Linked DNA regions of Homo sapiens: regions 2, 3 and 4 are each linked to region 1. Evidence: fine-mapped expression QTL. A gene starts in region 1. Each other region holds a variant in brackets. All regions are shown on one strand. Distances are from middle to middle. Region 1 holds the start of CCDC170 (coiled-coil domain containing 170). Region 2 overlaps CCDC170 (coiled-coil domain containing 170). Region 3 overlaps CCDC170 (coiled-coil domain containing 170). Region 4 overlaps CCDC170 (coiled-coil domain containing 170).

What was found. PIP is the estimated chance that this variant, and not a neighbour inherited with it, causes the effect. A credible set is the group of variants that fine-mapping cannot tell apart.
Region 2: its variant is the best candidate, but not a certain one, in a credible set for the expression of CCDC170 in whole blood (INTERVAL, PIP 0.54).
Region 3: its variant is the best candidate, but not a certain one, in a credible set for the expression of CCDC170 in whole blood (INTERVAL, PIP 0.62).
Region 4: its variant is the best candidate, but not a certain one, in a credible set for the expression of CCDC170 in subcutaneous fat (TwinsUK, PIP 0.72).

Annotation. Positions count from the first base shown.
Region 1 is chr6:151,491,781-151,496,932 of GRCh38, forward strand. It overlaps CCDC170 (coiled-coil domain containing 170), which reads left to right and starts at 2,237. Exons shown (of 11, transcript NM_025059.4): 1 at 2,237-2,405. The coding sequence starts at 2,349. LOC124901436 (a long non-coding RNA gene) reads right to left here. Exons shown (of 2, transcript XR_007059817.1): 2 at 4,627-5,152.
Region 2 is chr6:151,617,819-151,622,970 of GRCh38, forward strand. It overlaps CCDC170 (coiled-coil domain containing 170), which reads left to right. Exons shown (of 11, transcript NM_025059.4): 11 at 129-3,375. The coding sequence ends at 329. Among named protein-coding and RNA genes, the nearest start is that of CCDC170, 130 kb to the left of the region's middle. The variant G/A (reference allele first, on the strand shown) is at 2,508.
Region 3 is chr6:151,584,078-151,589,229 of GRCh38, forward strand. It overlaps CCDC170 (coiled-coil domain containing 170), which reads left to right. Exons shown (of 11, transcript NM_025059.4): 7 at 1,812-2,012. Among named protein-coding and RNA genes, the nearest start is that of CCDC170, 93 kb to the left of the region's middle. The variant T/C (reference allele first, on the strand shown) is at 2,800.
Region 4 is chr6:151,568,440-151,573,591 of GRCh38, forward strand. CCDC170 (coiled-coil domain containing 170) reads left to right here. Exons shown (of 11, transcript NM_025059.4): 6 at 4,735-5,052. Among named protein-coding and RNA genes, the nearest start is that of CCDC170, 77 kb to the left of the region's middle. The variant A/AT (reference allele first, on the strand shown) is at 2,882.

The sequences.
Region 1 (5,152 bases):
CCTGTAATCCCAGCTAGTCGGGAGGCTGAGGCAGGAGAATCGCTTGAATCCAGGGGGCGGAGTTTGCAGTGAGCAGAGATCGCTCCATTGAACTCCAGCCTAGGTAACGAGCGAAACTCTGTTTGAAAAAAAAAAAGAAAAGAAAATTTGACAAGTTTGTAGTGGTTCTACTGCAAGGAAAAACTACAACTTAAAAATGTGTTTACTCCAAATTGTACTATTAATAGGAGATTTCTGAAAGCCTAAGTTTTCATTAAGAACTTTTTCTTTAACGGTGCATCAAGTGAAAGCCTTGAGATGATTCTGGATTAGATATATGGCAAAGTTACCGTGAGCTCAAAAGCCATTGTCCAGATGAAGAAATCCTCAGGGTCAATATGAATGCACATAGGATGACTGATGGAATCCAAGAAAAGCTGCCATAGCTCTGATTTTGCCTTTTTGTGTTGTCTTTAGAGACATGCTCTTGCTCTGTCGCCCAGGCTGGAGTGCAGTGGTGATCATAGCTCACTGCAGCCTTGACCTCCTGGGCTCAAAGCTATCCTCCTGCTTTAGCTTTCTTTTTTTTTTTTTTTTTTAAGATGGCGTCTTGCTCTGTCACCCAGGCTGGAGTACAGTGGTGCTATCTCAGCTTATTGCAACCTCCGCCTCCCAGGTTCAAGCGATTCTCCTGCCTCAGCCTCCCAAGTAGCTGGGATTACAGGCATGTGCCACCACACCTAGCTAATTTTTGTATTTTTAGTAGAGACAGGGTTTCACTATGTTGGCCAGGCTGGTCTCGAACTCCTGACCTCAGGTGATCCACCTGCCTCAGCCTCCCAAAGTACTGGGATTATAGGTATGAGCCACCTCACCTGGCCCCGCCTTAGCCTTCTGAGTAGCTAGGACTACAGGTGTGCACCACCATGCCTGGCTAATTTAAAAAAAAAAAAAAAAAACTTGTAGAGATAGAGTCTTGCTGTATTGCCCAGGCTGGTCTCAAACTCCTGGCCTCAAGCAATCCTCCCACCTGTTTGATTTCATGTGTCTCAAACAGCATAGGAGTCTACTAAAGGCTTTTTTCTTTTTTTTTTTTTTTTTTTTTGAGGCAGATTCTTGCTCTGTCACCCAGGCTGGAGTGCAGTGGCTCAATCTTGGCTCACTGCAACCTCTGCCTCCCAGGTTCAAATGATTTTCCCTGCCTCAGCCTCTCAAATAGCTGTATTACAGGTGTCCGCTACCACGCCCGGCTAATTTTTGTATTTTTAGTAGAGACAGGGTTTCACCTTCTTGGCCAGGCTGGTCTCAAACTCCTGACCTCAAGTGATCCACCCATCTCAGCCTCCCAAAAGTGTTGGGATTACAGGAGTGAGCCACCGCGCCTGGCCCACCAAAAGCTTTAAAGTGAGGTGAATGCAGATTCCATTTTCAGATTCTGCTACAAATTGTGGGACCTTAAACAAGTTACTCATCTTCTCTGTGCTTTAGTGTTATGATCTGGAGCCTGATCTTCATTCTACCACTTACCCTGTACATCTTGGAAATTTTATTTTATTTCCCTGTGACTGTTGCCTTGTCTTGCAGATGGATTATTCTAACATCCACTTCATAATCTTGTTTCATTTAAGGAGATTGATCATACGTGGGAAGCACTTAGAACAGTGCATGGACGAGCACGAGTATTTCATAATGAGCAGCTGTGGCTGTTACTAACACTGGTATTACTAGTACCCGTACTTCCAGGCAGGGTTGTTGAGAAGGTGAAATGAAAGAACGCACACCAGGGCAGGCTACATAATTTGTGGACCCCGGTACAGAATGAAAATGCAGGACACCTTGTTCAAAACTTCCTAAAAACGTCAAGACTGGGACAGCTGAGTATTAAACCAAGCGCAGGACCCGGACCTGCACAGGTTGCACGCTCGCAGACACATTTGCACACAGTGTGTGCTAAATAAATGCTCCGTTCACCCTTGTGAAGTTTCCTATGCCTCACTCGCGCCAGCACCGTTCACAGTGCCCACTGGCTGTATTTATCGCTGACATAAGGATGAGGCCTGGAATTGCATTCACTGCAGAGTCCCACCGGGAGGACCGACCGTTATCCCCGCCGACTCCCCCCAGGTCGCCCTGGCAGTTTCGGCCGCTCAGTTGCAGGCCCTCGCCACGGAGGCCACGCTCGGGGGTTCGGGGTCCACCCCGGCCTCCTGCGGCCGGGCCACCCTACTCGCGCGCAGCCGCGCGCCGCCGCGTCCCCGCGGTGTTTACCCGTTGCCCGAGGAGACACCCGCGCCACCCGCCGGCTCCCGGCGCCGCCGCTTCCTCAGGGCCGGTTCCGGGTCCGAGCGCGCCCCCGGGCTCGGGTCGTCATGAGCCTGGACTGCACCAGCCATATCGCGCTGGGTGCCGCTTCGCCAGCGCCCGAGGTACGGTCCCAGCCGCCGGCCGCGCGCGGGGGTGGCCCTGGGGATAGACGACCCAGGAGGGGCCGAGGCGCCCCTGATTTGCACCCTTTTCCTCCCGGAGGCGTGGGCAGAATCAGAGCAGCTCTGTGCCCGCGAGGGCTGTGGCCTGGGACTGCCAGGGCGCTGATTTCAGGAGGGGATGGGCAGGACCGGAGTTTGCGGAGCGCGTCTGAATTTTAGGTTGTGCCACTCTGCTTCTCTGACCATTTAAACCGGTGACATTCGAAAGACTGTGGCCGGGCAGTTCCTCCCCGCCACCCCTGGGAGCAAAGAATTCCTTCATTTAACTTTCCCTGCTTAGCTACTGAAGTGTGCTTCGGAGCAATTTCTGGAAAATCTGATGTGGCAGGAGGAGGGCCAGCCCGGAGTAGAGTCACCGGCCCTTTCGTTGCGAAGTAATCCAGAAACGTTGGTAATTCAGTTGTTCCTGAATGCATCTACTCATTTACTCCCAGGAGTTACTTAGGTACTGGGGACTTTCAGGTATTAGATGTACCAATGCGCGCGCGCACACACACACGAACATGCGCGCATACACAGACGCTCGTGCACACACGCGAACAGGCACATACGCGAACAAACACGGGCGCGCACACACACGAACACGGGCATATGCATACTTGGGCGCACAAGAAGATCTGGCTGGCTCAGTCTGGGTTAAGAATCCCCCTTTGGCCTTGGCATCGGGGCCCACCGGGTATCGTGTGTATTGGGAGTAGTTGCCAGAGATGGGGGAATTGTGTTCAGCTCAACTGCTAACCGCAAGTAACTCACCCAATTAGTAAATGATGGAGGATTTTTCTTTCTTTCCAAAGTTTTGGACTTTTCCTACCACGCTGTGTACTGACCATAGATATCCCTGGGGGATGTAGTGGATTCAAAACATGAGTTGGATTCTCCAACGTGCCATCGGAATTCTTCTAATATTCAGCAGCTTTGATTGTTGTTTTACATCTGACCTGTATTTAGATTTCTCTGATTCCTGGAATATTTGTGGAAAATAAGTACCACTGTGTGCAAATAAAACTATTTTTTCTTTCTTTCTAACTCAGAGGCCAGTTACTAGATGTTTTTTCTTTCATCTGACATTTTCATATTTGACTTTATTAATTTTTATCCCAATGTGGTGTCTTAACCATACATAAGTATGTGGTATTTTTATATTATTAATATATATTTTTTTTGGTGAGCCCATTGAGAGTAAATTACAGCCATCATGATTCTTTCTTTCTCTCTCCTTTTTTTCTCTTGTTCTCTCCCTCCCTCCTTTTCTTTCTTTCTTCTTTTTTTCAGACAGGGTCTCACCTTGTTACCCAGGCTCGAGTGCAGTGGCACGATCTCGGCTCGCCGCCGCCTTGACACCCCTGGGTTCAAACGATCCTCTCACCTCAGCCTCCAGAGTAGCTGGGACTCCAGGCATGCCATGATGCCTGGATAATTTTTGTGTTCTTTGCAGAGGCAGAGTTTTATCGTGTTGCTCAGGCTGGTCTCAAACTCCTGAGCTCAAGCGATCCACCTGCCTCAGACTCCCAAAGTGCTGGGATTACAGAGATGCACTACCATGCCTGGTCCCCTATGACCTTTCATCTGTAAATACTCTGGTGTGTTATCTCCTATGAATAAGGGCATTCTCTAACGAACATACAATGATCAAAATCGGGATGTTTAGCATTGTGACAATAATATTATCTAATATACACGACCTACTAAAACTTTGCCACTTGTCCCAATTATGCCATTTATTGCCAATTTTTTTTCCATCTCAGGATCACACACTGTATTTAGTTATGTCTCCAGTCTCTTCAAACCTGGAACAGTTCTTCACATTTTTTTTGTTTGTTTTTTTGTTTGTTTGTTTTTGTCTTTGATGATACTGACATTTTTGCAGAGTCCAGGTCATTCGTTTTATAGAGTAAGTTTCTCTGATTGTCCTTCGTGATTAGATTTTTGGGTAGGAATAACATAAGAGATGTTATGTCTCAGAGTATCACATCAGGAGGGGCATATATCAGCTTATCCCATTATTGGTGATGTCCCCAGCTGGTGGCCTCTGCCAGATTTTTCCCCTTTAGCAATAAATAAGAAATCATATTAGTTGAGTAATAATATTGATTCGGATAGAAATTTTTAGCATAAGTCACTGCCTACAAAAGGAAAATGTCCATTAAGCATGAGATTTTAATTGGCTTAAAATAACTAAATTTTATTGAGAACAAAAGTAGCTGCAGAAAAGGCAGCATTTATTACAATTAAATGTTCAGTTTGCAAAATACTTTATCTGAGATCATCTTATAATTTAGATAGGCGGGGCAGAAATTTCTCACTATATAAGATGAGGAAATAGCTTACTGGATTAGAAATGATGGAGCAGGGACTTGTATCTTTCTTTCAAAAGCTTTGTACTTTTCCTACCATGCCAGACTGAAAACATTAAATTACAAAGCAGTGATAGTCTGCAACTTTCTGGAAAAGTAAAATACTGTAGAGACTGAGATACTAGTTTTAGACTCAAAACTAGATTCAAACAATCCTGATTATACCACTCATCTGTGACATCTTGGTCAAAACAATTAATGTATCAGCATTTTAGTTTTTTCTTCTAAAACATGGAATCATAAAACTTATCGCATAACGTAGTTTGAGGATTTCACGGTTAATAAATGTAAGGCACTCAAGAGAGTGTCTGACAGAATAAGTGCATATCAATA
Region 2 (5,152 bases), 130 kb after region 1:
AGAGTAGATAATTTCCCTACCTCATGCAAACCTGGGTTTTCTACAGGTTTTTTGTTTGTTGCATTTGGCTCAGCAGTAGTTGATACATTTTGTTCTCCCAGTTAATGAGTTTCTGTTTGATATTGCAGCTGGCAGACTTCAGGGAGGTGGTGTCGCAGATGCTAGGCTTGAACGTGACCAGCCTTGCTCTTCCTGATTATGAAATCATCAAGTGTCTTGAAAGATTGGTCCATTCACATCAGCATCACTTTGTTACCTGTGCCTGCCTCAAAGATGTGACTACTGGGCAAGAGAGGCACCCACAAGGCCATTTACAGCTTCTTCATTGAACACTGTATCTCTTGAGAGAGGTGGCCATAAGACATGGCACACAATTCCCAATTTCACAAATTCCTCATGTCTTTGAGATTTGATCAGTTTGTGAATATTTTATGCTTTGATGATATAGTGAGAATGCATCACTTGCAAAAACGATCTCAAAAGTGTCAGCCTTAGATAAACGTTCAGCATTAAAAACGCCTATTATTTCATTTACTAGCATTTTAGGATCCAGAAGAATTCCACCAGATTGCATGAGTTAGATTGGGAAATGGGAGTGGGAGATAATATTGGGAGGTATCTATTTTAAGTCAGGGGCTTTACTAGCCGATTTAGTTCTCACAATAACCATGTGGAGAAGCTGTGACATTTTTAATTTACAACCTTTCTGGGGCTCAGACATAAAGTTACCTATCCAAGGTTGCAGTTGGGTAGTGGTGGGACCAGGATGGACAACTCATTGGCCCTGCCTCAAAAGCCATACCTCTTCTCCTGCTATGCAGAATCTGTTTCTCCTGAATCTCTGTGATGCTGGTGGGAATTGTTTGCATAGAGGAAGGACAATAACCCTGCCATCGTGAGTTAATGTCCGGGCTGGTCACAGTGGTTCATGCCTGTAATCCCAGCACTTTGGGAGTCCAAGGCAGGCATATCATTTGAGGTCAGGAGTTTAAGACCAGCCTGGCTAACATAGTGAGACCCTGTTTCTACTAAAAATACAAAAATAAGCCAGGTGTGGTGGTGCATGACTGTAATCCCAACTACTCAGCAGGAGAAGCACTTGAACCCAGGAGACGGAGGCGGCAGTGAGCCAAGATTGTGCCACTGCACTCCAGCCTGGGCGACAGAGTGAAACTACATCTCAGAAAAAAAAAAAAAAAAAAAAAAAAAAAGTTAATGTCCAAAAATGACAGATTTACAAGTGTAAGCTATATGATTTCTTCAAAAAGCAAAAGCAATATACCTAATTCATTTGGATCAAACTTACATAGGTCTCAGGTCCTGTAAGAAACTTGCCTGTTCTAACTGTTGCTACCAGATTATATCTGGTGGTAATTGTTAATGTTTCAGCAGGGCTGGTCTCAGTCCTTTAAAATGGAAAGCTTTATTTGGAGCCCAACCCTATAAGATGAAGAAATCCTATATAGTCTTATTCACCAATATATCCAATACACCCACAGCAATGGTACCTTTTTAAGATCAGGATTTTATTATGAATTCCTGTCACTTTCTGTTTTCCATTTAAATTTCTATTTTACAAATTTTTCAGGGAATCATATTCTTAACTTCACTGAGAAAAATGTGTTACTCTTTTGGACAATTTATCTTATTTCTATCATATAAGATGTATTTTTTTATTGTCCTTAAAAGAAGCTCTAGCATGAAATTAAAGGAAAGGGAAAGAAATAGATCTGGTGCACCCGAACATTAGGAGAAAATGAAAAATATACAACCAACCGTTCGTGAGTCATCAAAAAGTCAAAGTCAGCCTGGCCAACATGGCAAAACTCCGTCTCTGCAAAAAATACAAAAATGAGCCCGGTATGTTGGCATATGCCTGTAATCCCAGCTACTCGAGAGGCTGAGACACGAAAATTGCTTGAACCTGGGAGGCGGAGGTTGCAATGAGCCGAGATCGCGCTACTGCACTCCAGCCTGGGCAACAGAGAGAGACCTTGTCTCAAAAAACAACAACAACAAAAAGTCAAAGTCATAATAAGCAAATTATTGGCTTCTTTCTTCTAGACTAAAAGAAATTAAAGAGATGAAACAATCAATTGCAAGGGTCAAAACTAGATTGGATCTTGGTTTGAATGAAAAAAAGCATAAAATATTCTTGCAATAATTGTAAAAATTTGAATGTGGACTAAGTCCTAGATTATATTAAAATATTTTTAATTTTTTAAGCTTGACAAATGCACTGATTGTTATACTTTAAATAACTAAAAATCTGAGAATCCACAGTGCTACAGACAATAAGTGATAAAATGGGAAAAAATAGTGAAGATCTTCTTTTAGGAAAACTACCAATAAATGTAGAATGGATGATTCCAAAAAAAAAAAAAAAAAGAAGAAAGAGAGAAAGAAAGAAACAGAAAAACCTAAAAGAAAGCGAATGAATTTGACACCTGTTGGTTGGATGACAGACCACACAGAGGGAGAGTGACCAGGCTTTGCTTGTGGAGCGG[G/A]CATCCCTGCCTAGCTATCTCCTTCATGTGCAAGGACAGTATAAGTAGTATTTTGCATGTGAGTAAACACACCTGCGCAGCCCTGGCTGAGGTCACTAGGCTGGCCAGAGGCAGGACAGGCAGTCTTGAATTTCCTCTAGGGGAGGCCTGCAGTTTTCCCCACCAACCCCTTTTCACATGCTCCAAAGATGTAGTAGTGTCTGCTGTTTTGGATCGAAAATCACCTTGAGTGGAGGAAGTGACTTCACTGGGTCTCTGGAGGCTCTCGGAGCTTGAGTGGCTCTGCCCCACCCTGAATCATGCACCCATAAATGCAGTTATGGGTGGATGTGGGTGTATGAGAGTGGAGATTGTTTTTGTACATTCTCTTTGTTTTCATTTTCCAAATATAATCTTTAATAAACTTGATTTAGTTTCTTGGGAAATTTATTTTCTACGCTATTCAAAGATATTTTAAATAATATTTTAAAAACATGAAATTTTTTTTTCATTTTTGATTTGATATCATTAATTTTATATCAGGATTCATGTAAGAGACTAAAAATGATCCATAGTGGTTAGTACTGTAATTTCTGTTTATTACATGAAATTACATTCCATTTATCCAAATATATGTTTATATAATATTTCCACTGTGTGACTCTAGTGATCTTTAACATACACAGAATGATCTACAGTGATCTTTAACATACTCAGAAATATGAAAAATGTTTGAATATGATCTTTAGGGACTTCTAATGAAAAGGGTATATGAAATGGGAACAATAAATTCTGTACATGTATACAGTCCATATACACATTAAGTGTTTGTCATTTGGACAAATTGAAAACTTTTAATAAAGCCATTTTCTTCTTTGTTAAAATGCCAGTTGGTTGTTGGATTTCCCTTTATGGCAATCATTCCAGAGTTGGCAGGCCAGCTTTGAATTTTTAGGTTAGATTTTGTTCTTCTATAATATCCATGTATATTTTATGCTGTCCAATAAAATGCACTAGGTTGATATGATTTTTACATAAGGCTTTAAAATATTTAATACTAACTCTTCTGTCAAATACACTTGAGTGATAGTGATTTTGCACTGAGGTTATTATTCTGGTCACTGTCTGAGACATCTAAATCGATGCATAAAAACATCTCATTTAGGGAAAACAATTTAAGCTTGACCTATCTAAAATTTCCAGTTTTACCTTACAGTCTGTTTTACAGGTTAACAGCAAGTGATTCAAGGTCCAGGGGTGGCAGGCTGAAGCTGTTAAAGAAATCTACATTATTGATATTGTCATAATACTTACGACTCAGAAATGGAGTCTCATTTTAACTGGGGAAGCATTTCATGGTTATGTAGCCTTTGGCTTGGAAAGTCTCACCCAGTTGATGCAGTAGTGATTTTATCCACATTATTGGACACTTCACTTAGCTTCTCATTAGCAAGTGGGGTCTGTATGCTTCTCTTTCCGCTATGTGCTTCCATACCGTATTCCTCTGCCTTTGTATAAACACATGGTTCATTTGAGGCTCCTGCTAGCTGATAGATGGATAACTTTCTTCTAGACCTCATTGGGGTTACCTACTAAAAGCCTATCTATTCTCCCTGCTTTAGACTTTTGCAAGTGGTTCATAGGTGTCTTCACTACCCCCACCGGGTGCTGCCTTCATCTTGGGTAGCTTTAATGCCCATAAAGCCAACTCATGTGACATCATACCTTTTTTTTTTTTTTTTTCTTTTTTGAGACAGAGTCTCACTGTGTCACCAGGCTGGAGTGCAGTGGTGCGATCTTGGCTCACTGCAACCTCCGCCTCCTGGGTTCAAGCGATTCTCCTGCCTCAGCCTCCCGAGCAACTGGGACTACAGGCACGTGCCACCATTCCCGGCTAATTTTTGTATTTTTAGTAGAGATGGAGTTTCACCATGTTGGCCAGGATGGTCTCGATCTCTTGACCTGGTGATCTGCCTGCCTCGGCCTCCCAAAGTGCCAGGATTACAGGCATGACCCACCACACCTGGCCTATATCTTTAGTTCCTTGGCCTTCTCAGTGCCCATACTTTTACCTCCTGTTGTTTCAGCCACTCACATCCTAGACTGCAGCTTATAGTAATCCAATTTAGACTACCTTAAGCTGAAAGGAGAATTTTGGGGGCTTGCTTGAAAGATTCAGGGGTAGACTAGCTTCAGCTTTGTTAGATCCAGGGGTTCAGAATTGGTGTCTGAATTCTTTCTGCTTCTATCCATCTCTCATGTTGACTTGATTTTGCTTGTCTTTGCATGTTGGCCTGACTTTTTCCTTCCGCACATGGGTTCCTCCATGCTACCAGAAGAGATGATCACAAGCAGTTGCATGATTGTTACAACTCATGTGGTCAGGCACGTGGCTCACACCTGTAATCTCAGCACTTTGGAAGGCTGAGAAGGGCGGATTGCTTGAGCTCAAGAGTTCAAGACCATTCTGGGCAAAAAAACAGAACAAAACAAACAAACAAAACCAAAAAAACCCACCATGAGTCGAGAAAAAGAGACACCCCCTGTCTCCAAGTGTCCATGCCAAAAATATTAGCCGAGAGGCTGATCATCTCTTCCAGGTCATATACGTATCCTTGAACCAATCACTGTAGCCAGGTGGATGAACTCACTCACCAGCCTGCATT
Region 3 (5,152 bases), 92 kb after region 1:
GTGTGCTGTCAGAAAAATGACGCTGATAGACTTGCTCAATGCAGGGTTACCACAAACCTTCAATTTGTAAAAAACTAAAATATCTGCGAAGAGCAATAAAGTAAGTGCAATAAAGTGAGATGTGCCTGTAGTTAGCCAATTTCCGGCCATCTTCGGTGACTGGGAATCCACTCCCTACTGGACAGTGTCTTTACACAGCTGTAATCATTGTAAAGTTTTCCCTTTCTTCTTTATTTTGATTATTTATTATTTTTAATTTTTTTTCTCAGACCTCACAGGGAAGAGTTTTTCCTTTCTTAGAAAGGAATGCTTAAGTGAATGATGACACATTCTCATGATGAATTCTTAATGCAGCCATTAAAATGTTAATTAAGAATTTCAAACGGCATGAGAATAATTAGGTAAAAACAAAGACATGAAATTGCATGTATAATATTTCAACTATATTTTAACAATACACAAAAACAAATTATTTAAAAATATTAATGGCTTTTGCCTCTGGGTGGTGGGATCACAGGGGATTGTTTTTTGCCTGTTTATACTTTTTGTGGTTAAAAGAAATTTCATGGGGATATCTTACTTTATAATTATAGGAACTGGGGAAAACATTTTCCTTTCATAAATATGGAATTTCTTCTCTGATTTATACCTGTTGGTTCTCAATATAGGCTCCGAGGGTAACTCAGAACAAATCCTTTTGTTCTCCCATATAATAGCCTTTCAAAAAGTTTAAAGGCAGATTACGTGTTTAAGCACGGCTGTTTATAGATGGGCAAACAGAAATTGTTTTCTTTTTAAAAATTTAGACAGTAAAAATCTGAAACAGTCAGGATGTTTCCATTTCTGTGAGAATGGTACTGTACTGTTATGTAAATACTATGTTTTCCCTCTTCTCTTCCAAAATAAACCATCGAAAGAAAACAAATTTATCACCCTAGGCTTGGTGGTTTTATTGAATTCAACATTTTATGAAACTGGATTTAGTAAAATCAGTTTGAGTTTTCTGAGAGTGTCCCTGAGGTCCTTGGTAAACTTGCACTCTTGGTTTAAGGGAATGATCAGGACAAAAAGAGGAACTCCTGGGAAGGATGGGAGCATTGGGCAAATCAGGTGGGTTGTGGAGAGCCTGGAGGGACTTTAACATGGGACAGTACTCAGATTCCCCTGCTCTCTTGTACATTGACACTGACCTTATTTAGAGTCACCATATTAAAGAGATGTTGACCTCTCCAATGCAAAAATGGTATTACTCTATAACTATGTAGTGTAGAGTCAGCATCCCTGGAGTTTAGGGCATAGGTAACCAATCTTCAACAGAAAGCTGAAAAAAGTTTGAAAAAGCATATATCTGTACATGAATTCCCTGTAATACCTCAATGTTACCTACCAAGATTATCTCACTGTCTAATCTTAAGTCAACTCAAAATGGTGAAAGAATTTTTCTGGGGAATGACTCTTTGTAGATTTTTACAGTACTTTTTGTCTTAATTCTTTTTCCTACTAAACTTTGAAACTCTTAGCAATAGTTTTGGGGTAAGTAAATGTTATCCATAAATTTTTATTGATTAACCTGATAAAAGAATTATATAAAAATTAAAAATACCAATCGAAAAATTTAATTCAATAATGAAAGTAGATTATTTCAAACAGAGGCAAATACAGCTATCAATTACATATTTTAAATGGGATTTTTACAAATAATCTGGAAGTTGGTATCATAAACAGTTATGCTGCTTAGGCAGAGCAGTAGATGTGAACACTTCCTTGCATCTGAAACAAGGCTTATTCTTGATCTGTTTCTTTGTTTCCAGATGGTCTCCCAGCTTGAAGCCCAAATATCTGAGCTTGTTGAACAGTTGGGAAAGGAGTCTGGGTTTCACCAGAAAGCTCTCCAGAGGGCCCAGAAAGCAGAGAATATGTTGGAGACTCTTCAGGGTCAGCTGACACACCTGGAGGCAGAGCTGGTTTCTGGAGGTGTTTTGCGAGACAACTTGAATTTTGAGAAACAAAAAGTAATGACCCGAGGGCATGTCCATGAGTGGAAGCATCTGTTGTAGTATAAAATTTTACCTGAAAATATCCTGAATTTTACAGTATTTAGTTTGGTTAAGTCCTGGACTTAATTGGTTAAGTCAATTTCAAGGAACAATGGGTTTGGAGCTTCCTTGATTCAAATTAATTTAATTAAACTCAACGAGTATTTATTGAATGCCTACCATATATGAGGTCCTAAAGGTTTGGCAAGCTAAAATATGAATAATACACAGTTCCTGATCTTAAAGGCTCATAATTCAATAGGGGAGACAGATACTCAGATAATTTGCTGTACTATAAGTTTACACATGTTATATGTATTGAATTAATAAAGTGCTGTAGGAACTTCCAGATAAAGGGAAGATTTTATAGGAGAGGAGATAATTAAGTTCATTTTTGAAAGATAAGTCAGATTATAGTGGAGACAGGAGACAGATACTGTAGGGGAAACAGTTTGAAGAAAGGCATGAAATCTGGCAAGTGCATAGTATATTCAGAGGACGCAAAATGGTGAATCCTCCATGGCTGGAACATGTTATTCTCGGTGGATCTGTGGCAAGAGAAAAGACTGGAATGGCTTAGACTATGAAGATGGAGTGTTCTTTACTCTGTAGAATATGAAGTGTGGTAAGTGTGAGCATTGCAGTATTTTATTTTATTTTATGTTTATGTTTATTATTTCTATTTTTTTGAGACAGAGTCTCGCTCTGTTGCCCAGGCTGGAGTGCAGTGGCGTGATCTCGACTCACTGCAACCTCTGCCTCC[T/C]GGGTTCACACCATTCTCCTGCCTCAGCCTCCCAAGTAGCTGAGATTACAGGCGCCCGCCACCACGCCCGGCTAATTTTTTGTATTTTTAGTAGAGACGGGGTATCACTGTGTTAGCTGGGGTGGTCTCGATCTCCTGACCTCATGATCTGCCCGCCTCGGCCTCCCAAAGTGCTGGGATTACAGGTGTGAGCCACCGTGCCAGGCCACATTGCAGTATTTTAGAAAGATAGCGTGATGTCCCCGTGGAGCTGAGATTGTGGCATGGAGGGTCTCGGAAACAATGGCACTGATAACCCAGTGGGAGAGGAGAGTTAGACGGGAAGAGAAGGAGCCCGCACTGAGGATTCGAATGTGGGGAGACTGTCAGTGATCTTTGAGAGGCAGTTTTGGTGGAGCGGTGGAGAGCAAAAGCCAGTTTGTTTGTGCTGAGGGGATCCTTGAGAGGAAGGGGAGCGACCTTCTAGTAGACCAGTGTGAAGTCTGGTGACCAAAGAGAAGAGAGGCATGAGGCAGTGGCTGTGAAAAACAAGATCAAAGAAAGGTTTTGCTGGACAGGATGGCGGGGAAAGTATGGACTGAAAGAGTCTGCAGGAGGGAGTGTGGGAAGGGAAAGGGAGGCACACAGGCCCAAGAGCCTCGATGCCAAATTTGGCATGAAAAATGCCCTAAAGTTGAAACATGTACACTCAAGTAACATATTCCTTTTCATTCTTCTGTACTTAAAACATTGAGGAATCATCATGCCTGCATTGAGGTTGGATATGCAAAGATGTGCCAAAGGTGTCTGTGGAAAATCAAGTCTAGCAGATGAGACAGGGAGATCGGGGCGTAATAGTACAATAGTGCAATTAGTGCGCTTAGTGCAATAGTACAATGGTGCAATAGTGCAATTAGTGCAAATAGTACAATTAGTGCCATGATGGAGACAGGTATAAAATTTAACAGAAACCTGGAAAAAGGAGCAATGACTTTTTTTCTGTGTGGTAAGTGAGCCATCTTCACAGAAGAGGGGAGCATTAAAGAATGAGTAGGAATTTGTCAGGCAGAAGAGGTGGGAAGGAATTTGAGGCAGAAAGAATAGCAGGAACAAAGAAGAAATGGAGGTGTGAAAAGAAGGCTCAGGAAATGAATGAGGTGCAGGGAGCCTGGGACATGATACTTGGCGAAACCAAAGGTGTGAGATGGCACTGGAGGCAGCTATAGGAATGATCGAGATGGGTCAGTCTAATGACTCAGGCTTCACTGCGTAGGTAATGGGAAGCCAGAGAAGGTTTTTGAGTAAAAGAAAGATTTCCCTCAAGTCAGACTCGCTTAGAGGGTAGCAGGGGTGTCCAACCTTTTGGCTTCCCTGGGCCACATTGGAAGAAGAAGAATTGTCTTGGGCCACACGTAAAATACACTAACAGTAGTGATAGCTGATAAGCTAAAACAAACAAACAACAACAAAAACACACACACACACAAAACAAACAAAAAACAACCATGCATAATTTTTGAGGTATCTGCCACCACAGATAAGCAAAAAGTCCTCGCCTTCCAAGGGTTGGACACAGCTGAGGGAAGGTAGGGAGCCCAGTTGGTGGCTCCCTGACTGGTCCAGTTAGATAGTCCAGTTCAGACTAGCCCAGTTCAGAAGATAATAAAGATCTGAACCAAGTAGTGGTTTTGTGAATGGAAATAGGGGATAGATTTGAGAAGTCTGGGAGAGTGAAGGGAGCTTTTTCTGTTAGATGTCTGTAAAGGTGTGATGGTGGAAAATTTGATTTTGTAAAGAAATATTGGCTGGGTTTGGTGGCTCACACCTATAATCCCAGCACTTTGGGATGTTGAGGCAGGTGGATCGCTTGAGCTCTGGAGTTCAAGACCAGCCTGGGCAACATGGTGAAACCCCATCTCTACAAAAAACACAAAATTTAGCTGGGCATGGTGGCACACACTTGTGATCCCAGCTACCTGGGAGGCTGAGATGGGAGGATAGCTTGAGCCTGGGAGGTGGAGGTTGCAGTGAGCTGAGATCATACCACTTCAGCCTAGGTGACAGAGTGAGACCCCGTCTCAAAACAAACAAACAAACAAACAAAAAACCAAAAACAGGCCAGATGTGGTGGCTCATGCCTATAATCTCAGCACTTTAGGAGGCTGAGGTGGGTGGATCACTTGAGGTCAGAAGTTCAAGAACAGCCTGGCCAACATGGTGAAACTCCATCTCTACTAAAAATACAAAAAATTAGCCAGGTGTGGTGGTGTGTGCCTGTAATCCCAGCTACCCAGGAAGCTGAGGCAGGAGAATCGCTTGAATTTGAGAGGCAGAGGTTGCAGTGAGCCAAGATTGCGCCATTGTACTCCAGCCT
Region 4 (5,152 bases), 77 kb after region 1:
TGTGTGCATGTGCATGTGTATATTTGTGCTCATATCACTGTTGACTCAACACTTTAAATGGACTAAAATTCCCCGGTGTTTTCATAGTTGCCACTATTCTATCACATCTTCCTTTCATTCCTAACCCCTGGCTACAATTCCCTTCTCTAGAGGTGATGAGAATTGGCAGTTGCTTGTGCATGTTTCTAGAGATATTCTTTTCATAAAGGTACAAATGGTACTATACTATGTACCATTGTTATTTGTATAGATGCACTATTAAACACCTTACTTTCTTCACTAACTGTATCTTGGAGAATCATTCATATTGGTATATAAAGAACTTCCCCATTTCATTTCAAGACTACATCATATTCTATAGTATGGATGTCTCATATTTGTTTAAGAAGTTACATATCAAAGAATATTCATGTAGTATGTTGTCTTTTGCTATATTATAATTGGATAACTACATATTCCTCATTTTCTATATTTAGTAACCTATCTTATAGATATATCCTCAGGACTGGAACTTCAGGGCCAAAAGATAAGTGCATATTAAGTTTTGTTATGTATTTATGCCAACAATTTATACCAAAATTATACCTGTTCACATTGCCACCAGCAATGTATGAGACTACCTGTTTGGGGGAATTTCTGAGTTTTTTTGTTAATCATAACTGCAGTAGGTAGAATTAACCAACTGATTTTTTTATTTTATAAAATTGATCTAGGATTGAAGGAATTAAGCTCAAGCCACAGGTTCTCTGTCCTGATGATAATCATTGTACTTTTGAGTGGCAATTTGATCTCATGTGTATCTAAATCCATAAAATAGCAACAGAACAGGAATCAATTGTGTTTTTAAAACGCAAACCTTTGGATGGTTTCATTACTTAATGCAGACTCGTGCATTTAAATGGGAAGCTAAATTGAATGCCATAATCATATTGTTTATTAAAGTTTTTGTTAAAAGTAATTTTGAAAGAATCATTTTACATTTGTCGCTTCAGTCAGACTGAACCTAAAGACTTATTAATTATAAAAAAATTTTTTAAGTGATCCCCATCACAGTCTATAGGGCCTGCCCTCTGTGATTTCCTCTGTGGAGGTCAGTCTTGGTTTTGCTCACAGGAAGCTTTATGTTTCTTGTCCTGTATGTCAGTGTGGTCTGACAGCAATCCCCAGGTCCTGGCCAGTGGTACTGATGTCACATTATTTTATGCCGCTTGCTTCGGCGTATCCTTGAGGTAGCCATGGAACCAGAATCCACTCTGATGGCTTTCTCCTGATAGGTGAACAAGTAATTGCATTTGCAGTCTGAGGACATTTATTTCCAGAAGATCAGCCCTGTGCCCCTGAATCCTGCAGCACTTAATCAGAGCACTAAGGGAGCGACCATCCCCAAGGCCTTGTCACTCTGGCTCTCGAGTCCTGCATTTTATACAAGAAACAGCTTAGGGTTCACTGAGCTGAATGTGCCTGAAAAAGAGAAACCCAACTTGCTCACAGACACCATTGTATTCTATGAACACAAACTGATTTTGTGATTTTCACTAGACATAAATGTTGATGCCTAGGTTTAAAAAGAAAACGTTCTTTGGATTTGTTAGAGAGGATTGTTTTGGCCCTTTTCTTGAAGTCAGTGAAACATTAGTATGATATTGGGGTAGAAAAATTCCTCATAGTTGAAATATTTTAATTGTGTTTATTGGTCTTGTGGTGTTGGCTGCCAGTTGAGTTGTCTACTCCAAATTGACAGTAACTCCATAAGTCACAAGCATCTGAGATATATTTTGTGTATTTTGAGGGTCTTTAGTGAATATATAATATTCCATATGGTTTTAGAATTCTAAAGTGATTAGGATTAATTTCCATCCCAGCATCATTGAATTTAGGACCTCAATTTTCTAACCACACATCAGACTGTGCAGTCGACCCTCTGCATCCACAAGTTCCACATCTGTGGATTCAACCAACTATAGATAAAAAAATATGGAAAAAAGCCAATACAAATAACAAAACAACAATAAAAATAATACAAATAAAAACAACACATGATAACAGTTATTTATCTAGCATTTACAGTGTATTTGGTATTATAAGTAATCTAGAGATGATTTAAAGTATACAGAAGAATATGTGTAGCTTATATGAGAATATTATTCCATTTTATATGGGAGACTTGAGCATCCTCAGGTTTTCATATCTTCCGGGGTCCTAGAACCAATTCCCCAAGGATACCAAGGAACGACCGTAGTTTCCAAGTAAAATATGCCCCAATTTATTATCACCTTTACTGATACTAGTTACTCTAATTGAGCAAGTGAGAAGATATTGTATTATGATCTGAAGAGAAATCTGTAAACTGTTAAAATATTGAATTTGTGATAAAGTGTCCTTGACTCTACTTTTAAGGACCGTCATTTAATTAGCAGCAACAGTGGGGCTTCTCTACAGACATGACTAGTTTAGCAAAGGAAAGGGGAAACCAAGACCTTGAAAAGCAAAAGGCATTTTACAAAATAGATTCCATAATTAGTTGAGTTATTACATCTCTGAAAAGGGCAGGCTTCTCTAACTACATATCTACTCTGTGACTTTTCTTTCAAATTGATGCCTGAGACTTCCTTGATTTTAAAAAAGTCACCATAATGGAAAAAATAAGATGTTATGTTTCCTATAAAAAATAGGAACTAGTGTTTCAGGCTATCCTTTTTCCTGTTTCCAAGCTGTTAATGGAGAGAAATTTCTTTTAAAGCCCAGTTCTAATGCAAAAGAGGTGACTGCATTTTAACTGGCAGCCTGAAATGTTATCAGCTCATTTAGATGTAGAGTCTGTTATTTAAAAATATTGTGTTTCTTTTTAGTGCTTTTTACCTCTAACATACTATTTTTAATA[A/AT]TTTTTTTTTTTTACCAGTTAACTAGGTAGCAATACTACAGCCATGCTAGTTAACACGCCGCTTAATATTTCTTAATGTGAATTCATGTATTTTGGAACTTGATGTTAAAAAATAATTTTAAAAATCAATTTTAAAGATGCTCATGCCTGTAATCCCAGCACTTTGGGAGGCCGAAGCGGGTAGATCACCTGAAGTTGGGAGTTCAAGACCAGCCTGACCAACATGGAGAAACCCTGTCTCTACTAAAAATACAAAATTAGCTGGGCGTGGTGGCACTTGCCTGTAATCCCATCTACTCGGGAGGCTGAGGCAGGAGAATCACTTGAACCCAGTAGGCGGAGGTCATGGTGAGCTGAGATTGTGCCATTGTACTCCAGCCTGGGCAATAAGAGTGAAACTCCGTCCCGGGAGAAAAAAAAATCCTCCTTTGGTGCCTCTGTGGGCCATTCTAGATTATGGTAAATAGAATTAAGTACACAGGTAACCTTCTTTATGTCCTTCATTATTTTTCTGAACCTAATTTCACATGTTATGTTCTTATGTTGTTATTTTGAGACAAGGTCATGCTGTGTCACCAAGTCTGGAGTGCACTGATGCAATTACTGCTCACTGTAGCTTTGAATTCCTAGGCTCAAGCAATCCTCCTATCTCAGCCTCCCAAGTAGCTGGGACCATAGCACATGCTACCATGCATGGCAAATTATTTTATTTTATATAAGATGGGGGTTTACCAAGTTGCCCAGGCTGGTCTCCAACTCCTGGGCTCAAGCAATCTTTTGTCTCGATCTCCCAAAGAGCTGGGATTACAGGAGTGAGCCACTGTGCCCAGCCCATATTATATTCTTTAAGATTATTCTTCTAAGTATGATACTTTCCCTCTACTTTTAATCCTCCCACCTACCAAATGGCTAGTTGTTTCTGTTTCCTTTCTTCAGGTTCTTTCTGCGTTGTCTTTATGAGACAAGGGGATATGCAATGAATATTGGATATTGGAAGTCAATGAATAGTTTTATGCAATGATGTTTTTATGAGAATATTCCTCTATTATTCAAAATAGCATTGAGGGGGCATCTTTATTCAAATAATTGTTAGTGCCTAGCTAGGACTCTGAGAGCTTACTGTTTATTAAAAATAAATTTCCGTATACACCAAGCTTGAGAAAGATAGTTCTATAAACATATTCTACATATGGACTGAATCTACTAATATGTTATCCAATGATTTGTTTTTATTAACTCTTTCCAGTATTCCACACAGAAAAGGCTTATGTGTCAAAGTTTCCTTCTTTTTTCTAACCCAGATTTTATATTTTATATCCCTTCTCTGTGTTTTTTTTTTTTTTTTTTTTGATGGAGTCTTGTTCTGTTGCCCAGGCTGGAGTACAGTGGAGTGATCTCAGTTCACTGCAACCTCCACCTCCCAGGTTCAAGCAATTCTCCTGCCTCAGGCTCCCGAGTAGCTGGGATTACAGGTGTGCGCCACTATGCCCCGCTAAGTTTTGTATTTTTGTTTAGTAGAGGTGGGGTTTCACCATGTTGGCCAGGCTGGTCTTGAACTCCTGACCTTAGTGATCCACCCACCTCAGCCTCCAAAATGCTGGGATTACAGGTGTGAGCCACCACGCCTGGCCCCATTTTCTGTTTTTAAGACACCTAAATTTTCCTGACATACCATTGGGATTTAATAACTTTATGAGGAGACTATAGGGAACTTGGAGTTAAAAATGGAAGGAGTAATTAACCCAACCCCTTGTAGTCATTAGCAGGCAAAGTCAATGAATTTGCCATAGCAAATGCAGGTGTACCCTGTTGACTTCTAATGGTATTGTCTTCACTTTCTGTAATCATTTTAGGACCTGCTCAGTGCTGTAGAAGCAAAAGAAGCTCTTGAAAGGGAAGTTAAGATCTTCCAAGAAAGGCTGCTTGCTGGCCAGCAGGTCTGGGATGCCTCAAAGCAGGAAGTGAGCCTCCTGAAGAAAAGCTCTTCTGAGTTGGAGAAGAGTTTGAAGGCCAGTCAGGATGCAGTCACAACCTCACAAAGCCAGTACTTCTCATTTAGGGAGAAAATCGCAGCCCTCCTTAGGGGCAGATTGAGCATGACTGGGTCCACTGAGGACACCATTTTGGAGAAGATTCGAGAAATGGACAGCCGGGAAGAAAGCAGGGACCGGGTGAGTGGGTCATGGCTGTTTACAGACATCTTAAGAACAGTGAGCTCATTCATTTAGCATGCTCAGTGACTGTATTAGTCTATTCTCACGCTGCTATAAG